Linked DNA regions of Homo sapiens. The protein of the gene in region 1 interacts with the protein of each later gene in a pairwise test. Each region holds a gene or a part of one and is shown in the gene's direction. Other genes may lie near its edges.

What was found.
Region 2: the proteins of NALCN (region 1) and CHRM3 interact in binary tests that used the Homo sapiens proteins (3 or more experiments, as listed by UniProt).

Annotation. Positions count from the first base shown.
Region 1 is NC_000013.11:101,053,249-101,056,806, reverse strand, and holds the end of NALCN (sodium leak channel NALCN), read left to right. Parts: intron 1-1,318; coding exon 1,319-1,512; 3' UTR 1,513-3,031; downstream 3,032-3,558. UniProt on the Homo sapiens protein: Voltage-gated ion channel responsible for the resting Na(+) permeability that controls neuronal excitability. NALCN channel functions as a multi-protein complex, which consists at least of NALCN, NALF1, UNC79 and UNC80.
Region 2 is NC_000001.11:239,907,568-239,911,492, forward strand, and holds part of CHRM3 (muscarinic acetylcholine receptor M3), read left to right. Parts: coding exon 1-1,657; 3' UTR 1,658-3,925.

The DNA of each region.
Region 1 (3,558 bases):
GGAATCTGTGCTTTAGGAAGTTGACTTGGCAGCAAAGGAGGGAATTGTCTATGACAGAGCCTGGAGGCAGGTTACAAGCTGGAGGAAGTTACCGTGGTGTGAGCACAAGGCAACAAAGGCATGGACAGAGCTGGGGGCCAGATACTGCAGGGACAGATAGGAGAGGTGACCTGGGGAGAATGCACAGTCCTTGGTATTCATTTAAATGGACAAAAGAAATGATGCTGTCAAAAGTACTTCCATTGGGCCAGGCGCAGTGGCTCACCCCTGTAATCCCAGCACTTTGGGAGGCCGAGGCAGGTGGATCATTTGAGGCCTGGAGTTCAAGACCAGCCTGGTCAACATGGTGAAACCCTGTCTCTACTAAAAATACAAAAATTAGCTGACCGGTAGTGGTGTGCACCTGTAATCCCAGCTGCTTGGGAGGCTGAGGCAGGAGAATCACTTGAGCCTGGGAAGCAGAGGTTGTGGTGAACCAAGATTGTGCCGCTGCACTCCTGTCTGGGTGAGAGAGTGAGAACCTGTCTCCCAAAAAAAAAAAAAAAAAAAAAAAAAAAAAAGTACTTCCACTGGTCCATGCCTAGGTGGTCCCCACCAAAAACGGTGATCGTGAAATAGACATGCTCTTGGGGTCAGGCTGAGTTTGAGGAGGCAGAGGAGAAGAAAAATAGTATTTTGAGGGGGCAGCAACAATGTCACAGGTGTCATGCTATGCACTTTCCTAAGTCATCTCATGTAACCTGTTTTAATCCTGACAATAGTCTAATTAGGACATTTTCATTGTCTTCATCTTACAATGGAGGAAACTTGGGTTCAGAGACGTGAAGTTGCCCATAGCTACATATCCACAGGTTGCAGAGGTGGGTCCCAACACCATGACTGTGAGGCCCCAGAACCACACCTTTCCTCCCATACCCTCACTGCATCCCCCCTCGCCTTTACTGTGGGTCACACTCTCCTTCCTTTTTGTTTTTTTTATTGCATATGCTAATGAATGCACAGGTTTCTGTGACACTTAATAGTTCCCGAATTGGAATTTTTTTAGTGATTTTCTAGTTTTTTTAATTATTTCAAAATGAAAGGGGTGAGCAGCACGTTTTTTTCCCAAATGACATCATTAGTTGTCCATGAGCACAATTAAAAAAAAAATCTATCGTGAACATAAAGAATCAAGTCCTGAAAAGGATGTTTACTTAGCATCTGTGGCTAGGACACGTTAGCCAAAAGTATCACTGATGGGAATATCATGGGTTTTTAGGAGTGATTACAATAGGGTGAAGCAATACCAAGTGGCTCATAGGACTCATTAATTCCACAGCCCCAAAACCAATAAGCCATTCAGTGTCCTCAGTCAACTTACGGTTTGGAGGAAGGACAACCATGAAATCTGTCGTGTGCAAAATGAACCCCATGACTGACGCGGCTTCCTGCGGTTCTGAAGTTAAGAAGTGGTGGACCCGGCAGCTGACTGTGGAGAGCGACGAAAGTGGGGATGACCTTCTGGATATTTAGGTGGATGTCAATGTAGATGAATTTCTAGTGGTGGAAACCGTTTTCTAATAATGTCCTTGATTGTCCAGTGAGCAATCTGTAATTGATCTATAACTGAATTCCAGCTTGTCACAAGATGTTTATAAATTGATTTTCATCCTGCCACAGAAAGGCATAAGCTGCATGTATGATGGGTTACTATCAATCATTGCTCAAAAAAATTTTTGTATAATGACAGTACTGATAATATTAGAAATGATACCGCAAGCAAATGTATATCACTTAAAAATGTCATATATTCTGTCTGCGTAAACTAAGGTATATATTCATATGTGCTCTAATGCAGTATTATCACCGCCCCGCAAAAGAGTGCTAAGCCCAAAGTGGCTGATATTTAGGGTACAGGGGTTATAGCTTTAGTTCACATCTTTCCCATTTCCACTAGAAATATTTCTCTTGAGAGAATTTATTATTTATGATTGATCTGAAAAGGTCAGCACTGAACTTATGCTAAAATGATAGTAGTTTTACAAACTACAGATTCTGAATTTTAAAAAGTATCTTCTTTTTCTCGTGTTATATTTTTAAATATACACAAGACATTTGGTGACCAGAACAAGTTGATTTCTGTCCTCAGTTATGTTAATGAAACTGTTGCCTCCTTCTAAGAAAATTGTGTGTGCAAGCACCAGGCAAAGAAATGGACTCAGGATGCTTAGCGGTTTAAAACAAACCTGTAGATAAATCACTTGAGTGACATAGTTGCGCAAAGATGTTAAGTTTCTTAAGAAACCTTTTAATAACTGAGTTTAGCAAAAAGAATAAAACTATATAGCTCAATTTATTTAAAAAAATCTTTGCATGTGTGATGTTATCATTGGCTTCATTTCTTACCCAAGGTATGTCTGTTTTGCCATAAATCAGCAGAGTCATTTCATTCTGGGTGATCCTAACACACCATTGCTACGTTAGATTTGAAATGACATCTCTGTTAAAAGAATCTTCTATGGAAATAATGGTGCCCTGCAAAATCTTCCTTTGAACTCACAGGTTAGGGATCACACAACTTACTTAATCGTTTTTTGTTTTTGTTTTTTTTCCTTATATGTCAATGGCCCATGTCCTCCGGGAAAATTAGAAAAGCAAAATGATTACAAAGTGCTGTTAGATTTCTTGTGCTGGGCCAGCCAAGTAGAAGTGGACTTGACTTGGACCTTTAACTATTTTATTACAGATTGGACATTTGCTGTTCAGATGTTTTTTAACAGAGGGATTATCTCAGAATCCTGTGACCTCCAGGTTGTTTTATAATCTATTTTTCTCTATTTAACATTCCTCAGATAGATAGGCAAATAGGACATTCCTTCTGTGTCACAGAAGTATCGTGGTAGTGGCAGTCTACAGTTTATATGATTCATTGTAACTATGAGATAAAGAACAACCAGTCATGTGGCCAAAAGGATTAGATTTGATTTGATGTTCACTTGGAGTTTACTTTTTGTACATACAAGATAAAATAAATATTGGATTTGTAAAATAATTTACTCTGAGTTGACCATTTTTAAACCCTTTTCTTGGTGGGGCAGGCACTCGGTAGCAGCACATTGCAAACCTGGATTGAATATTCAGTCCATAATTAGTTGGCAAAAGCTGTGTCCCTGATACTCATTTCAACTCAATTCTCTGAGCCAGAATGTTCCTTTCACACTTGTGCTGATAAGGCTGAGTGAATACCCTGTGCCCTCTAAGCCTACAATGAACAGAAAAGGCACTTACAGGTCCAGGGCATGGGTCTGTACTAGTGCTGCATAAAAACAAGATGTTTTTGGCTCATTACACTTGAGTAATACAGCTTCATTCTCACGAAACTGCTGAGCCCTTTCTAAAACGTCTGGAATTGATGTTCAGCAGAACATCATTGTTGTTCATTCTGCAGTGAAGCCAGGGGCAGAATACCAATGTATTTAAAGCCATAGCACCCTATATTTTCAATGAAGCGAAACAGTCACACACTTCCTGTAGGACTCCTCTCTACGATTTTCCTGAAACAGGTAGAGCATATGCAAG
Region 2 (3,925 bases), on another chromosome or scaffold:
CTACAATGTTTCTCGAGCAGCTGGCAATTTCTCCTCTCCAGACGGTACCACCGATGACCCTCTGGGAGGTCATACCGTCTGGCAAGTGGTCTTCATCGCTTTCTTAACGGGCATCCTGGCCTTGGTGACCATCATCGGCAACATCCTGGTAATTGTGTCATTTAAGGTCAACAAGCAGCTGAAGACGGTCAACAACTACTTCCTCTTAAGCCTGGCCTGTGCCGATCTGATTATCGGGGTCATTTCAATGAATCTGTTTACGACCTACATCATCATGAATCGATGGGCCTTAGGGAACTTGGCCTGTGACCTCTGGCTTGCCATTGACTACGTAGCCAGCAATGCCTCTGTTATGAATCTTCTGGTCATCAGCTTTGACAGATACTTTTCCATCACGAGGCCGCTCACGTACCGAGCCAAACGAACAACAAAGAGAGCCGGTGTGATGATCGGTCTGGCTTGGGTCATCTCCTTTGTCCTTTGGGCTCCTGCCATCTTGTTCTGGCAATACTTTGTTGGAAAGAGAACTGTGCCTCCGGGAGAGTGCTTCATTCAGTTCCTCAGTGAGCCCACCATTACTTTTGGCACAGCCATCGCTGCTTTTTATATGCCTGTCACCATTATGACTATTTTATACTGGAGGATCTATAAGGAAACTGAAAAGCGTACCAAAGAGCTTGCTGGCCTGCAAGCCTCTGGGACAGAGGCAGAGACAGAAAACTTTGTCCACCCCACGGGCAGTTCTCGAAGCTGCAGCAGTTACGAACTTCAACAGCAAAGCATGAAACGCTCCAACAGGAGGAAGTATGGCCGCTGCCACTTCTGGTTCACAACCAAGAGCTGGAAACCCAGCTCCGAGCAGATGGACCAAGACCACAGCAGCAGTGACAGTTGGAACAACAATGATGCTGCTGCCTCCCTGGAGAACTCCGCCTCCTCCGACGAGGAGGACATTGGCTCCGAGACGAGAGCCATCTACTCCATCGTGCTCAAGCTTCCGGGTCACAGCACCATCCTCAACTCCACCAAGTTACCCTCATCGGACAACCTGCAGGTGCCTGAGGAGGAGCTGGGGATGGTGGACTTGGAGAGGAAAGCCGACAAGCTGCAGGCCCAGAAGAGCGTGGACGATGGAGGCAGTTTTCCAAAAAGCTTCTCCAAGCTTCCCATCCAGCTAGAGTCAGCCGTGGACACAGCTAAGACTTCTGACGTCAACTCCTCAGTGGGTAAGAGCACGGCCACTCTACCTCTGTCCTTCAAGGAAGCCACTCTGGCCAAGAGGTTTGCTCTGAAGACCAGAAGTCAGATCACTAAGCGGAAAAGGATGTCCCTGGTCAAGGAGAAGAAAGCGGCCCAGACCCTCAGTGCGATCTTGCTTGCCTTCATCATCACTTGGACCCCATACAACATCATGGTTCTGGTGAACACCTTTTGTGACAGCTGCATACCCAAAACCTTTTGGAATCTGGGCTACTGGCTGTGCTACATCAACAGCACCGTGAACCCCGTGTGCTATGCTCTGTGCAACAAAACATTCAGAACCACTTTCAAGATGCTGCTGCTGTGCCAGTGTGACAAAAAAAAGAGGCGCAAGCAGCAGTACCAGCAGAGACAGTCGGTCATTTTTCACAAGCGCGCACCCGAGCAGGCCTTGTAGAATGAGGTTGTATCAATAGCAGTGACAAAACGCACACATCAACCCACAGACCTTAGGAGGAGGAAGGCGAGGGCGGGGTGACTTCTGGTGATGATAAAAATGGTTTTATCACCCAGATGTGAAAGAAGCTGCCTGTTTACTGATCCATTGAATAAACCCATTTTAATAGAAAAAGTCAATACCAATTCAGCAAAAAGAAAAAAAAAACATACTACTGAATATAAAGAAATTTATTCTGAAATAGACTTTACGTGTTTTTTTCTTAAAGAGGAGAAAAATATTGCTTGACGGCAATTATATACCCAAAGTGATTTGCCTGGGTCCTTTAATTCCCATTAGCTTTGGAATCTCAGATGAGCATAGCTGACCCAGTTCCCACATTCTTCCCAAGGATCCCAAAAGTGGGAATCCAGACCCCAAGTGGAACACTGCAGGCTTACGAATCTGTGGTTCCAAAATTATTTCATACGTTGCAAAGCTGAATCTTCTTGTCCCAATAGAGCTTCCTGTCTTTTCTTTGGTGTGTTGTTAAACTCTATTTGTGGACTTGATTCTTGATTCTTGCAAAGTACTGTTTTGTGCAGTTCAAGTTTCGTACAAATAAAAATACTTAAGTATATATATATGTGTGAGTTCTGCACGCACACACATAGTGTATATAATATCATGGGAAACACTGAACTGGCAAATTATTCCTGCAACATACGCTTTCAGTACTTTGGTAACTGAAGTTCTCTAGGATCCTAATGCAACATTAACGTGAAATAAGCCCAGTGTAATGTTTTTGAAACCAGGGCTGTTTTCCACAGAGAGCAGCCAGGCCTTCCCAGCAGGTCTGTGCAGAGCGGACAGGCTCGTGAGTCAGCTGAGCGCCGTGGCTTCGCCAGACTTGGTGTTAAGCAACCTCCTTTGTTGATGTCTCAACAGAGCTAAATCGGGGCCCCTCTGAGCTCAAAGAATGAACCACATCCACACGTTTGAATTTAATCATCTAAATCTGAATGTTTCAGAACAAAATTTCTGCTATCTAAACTGCTTGAAACTCAATAATAGTGTCACGTTTGAATGTCATACACAGCAATATATATATATGTGTATATATATATATATGGCAAAGCAAAAAAAAAAACATGGTAAGAGAGAATGAAGGAGAACATTGTGTTTGATTCTTGCTGAATGGCACCTTCTCAAAGAAAATAGGGCTTGCACCTTTGTTAATCAGCTGTGGCCAGTGCTTTCTGGTGTTCATTGTGTAACCTTCACCCAGGAATAGGTGAGGTTTTAGGAAGTTACATGTCCTCTGAAGAAAGAATTACACTCTGAAAAGTAATGCTTCAAATTGATTTCCTTACCTTTTGGGAAAAAAAAAAAATTGTTTTTTTGCATTCTCCCTTGAATTGACCAAAATGTTAACTGTTTCATTTGGGGAGGGGATGGGGTGCTGCCATCATTGTCGTTGTTGTTGCTGCTGTAGCTGTTGGGGTTTCTTTTCCTGTTGCCGGGGCTGTTTGGGGAGAGGGAGGGGAGGGAGGTGGGAGGGCCGCGGAGATATCTTCCCTTTGTACAGGGCATTCGTGTTGTGAACCCAGAGCTGGGTAGAAGCTGCTTTTGTATTCAGTGTGAGGTGGTGTTTACAGACGACTTTGACAACAGTAGAAGTGTACTCAGTGGTGTCTGTGTATCTGAACTATTTAATTTCGTGTTATGTTTATATGCAGAAATATTTATGGATACTACACCAAGTGTTTATTTAATGTTGATAAATATGACTCTTCAGTCGTCAGCCATGGTGTCCTTTCAAAGTGATTCTTTAAGGTCCACTTGAGCAATGAATAGAGTATATTGGAGCTTTCCTGTGGCTAAGAAGAAGAAACATGTCATCCTGTTGGCATCACCAAGCACCTAACTCTTTCTAGGTAATAAAAAGTCAACGGTCACTTCAACGTAAATGTTTAAAACCACTCTTTAGTTAAATCTGATGGGAACTGAACAAAGCTCCACCATTGTGTCTGAAATCATTTTACACAGGGAAAAAAAAAAACAATCAGCATAATTGTAAGAATGATTTTTTTGGGCCCACATTCAACCAAAGAACAAGAAAGAAACAGACGATTTTCTAATATGTACACAGCAAACTACAGAATGTCATATTATCCACCTGTGAAACATCTAGTAAGCAATTGCATCTATATTTTATTTCTCAAGTTGGCCTGGCACTAATAAATATGTGAAAGCTTATTCAAGTGTCCCAGTACTTCAGCACTTCCC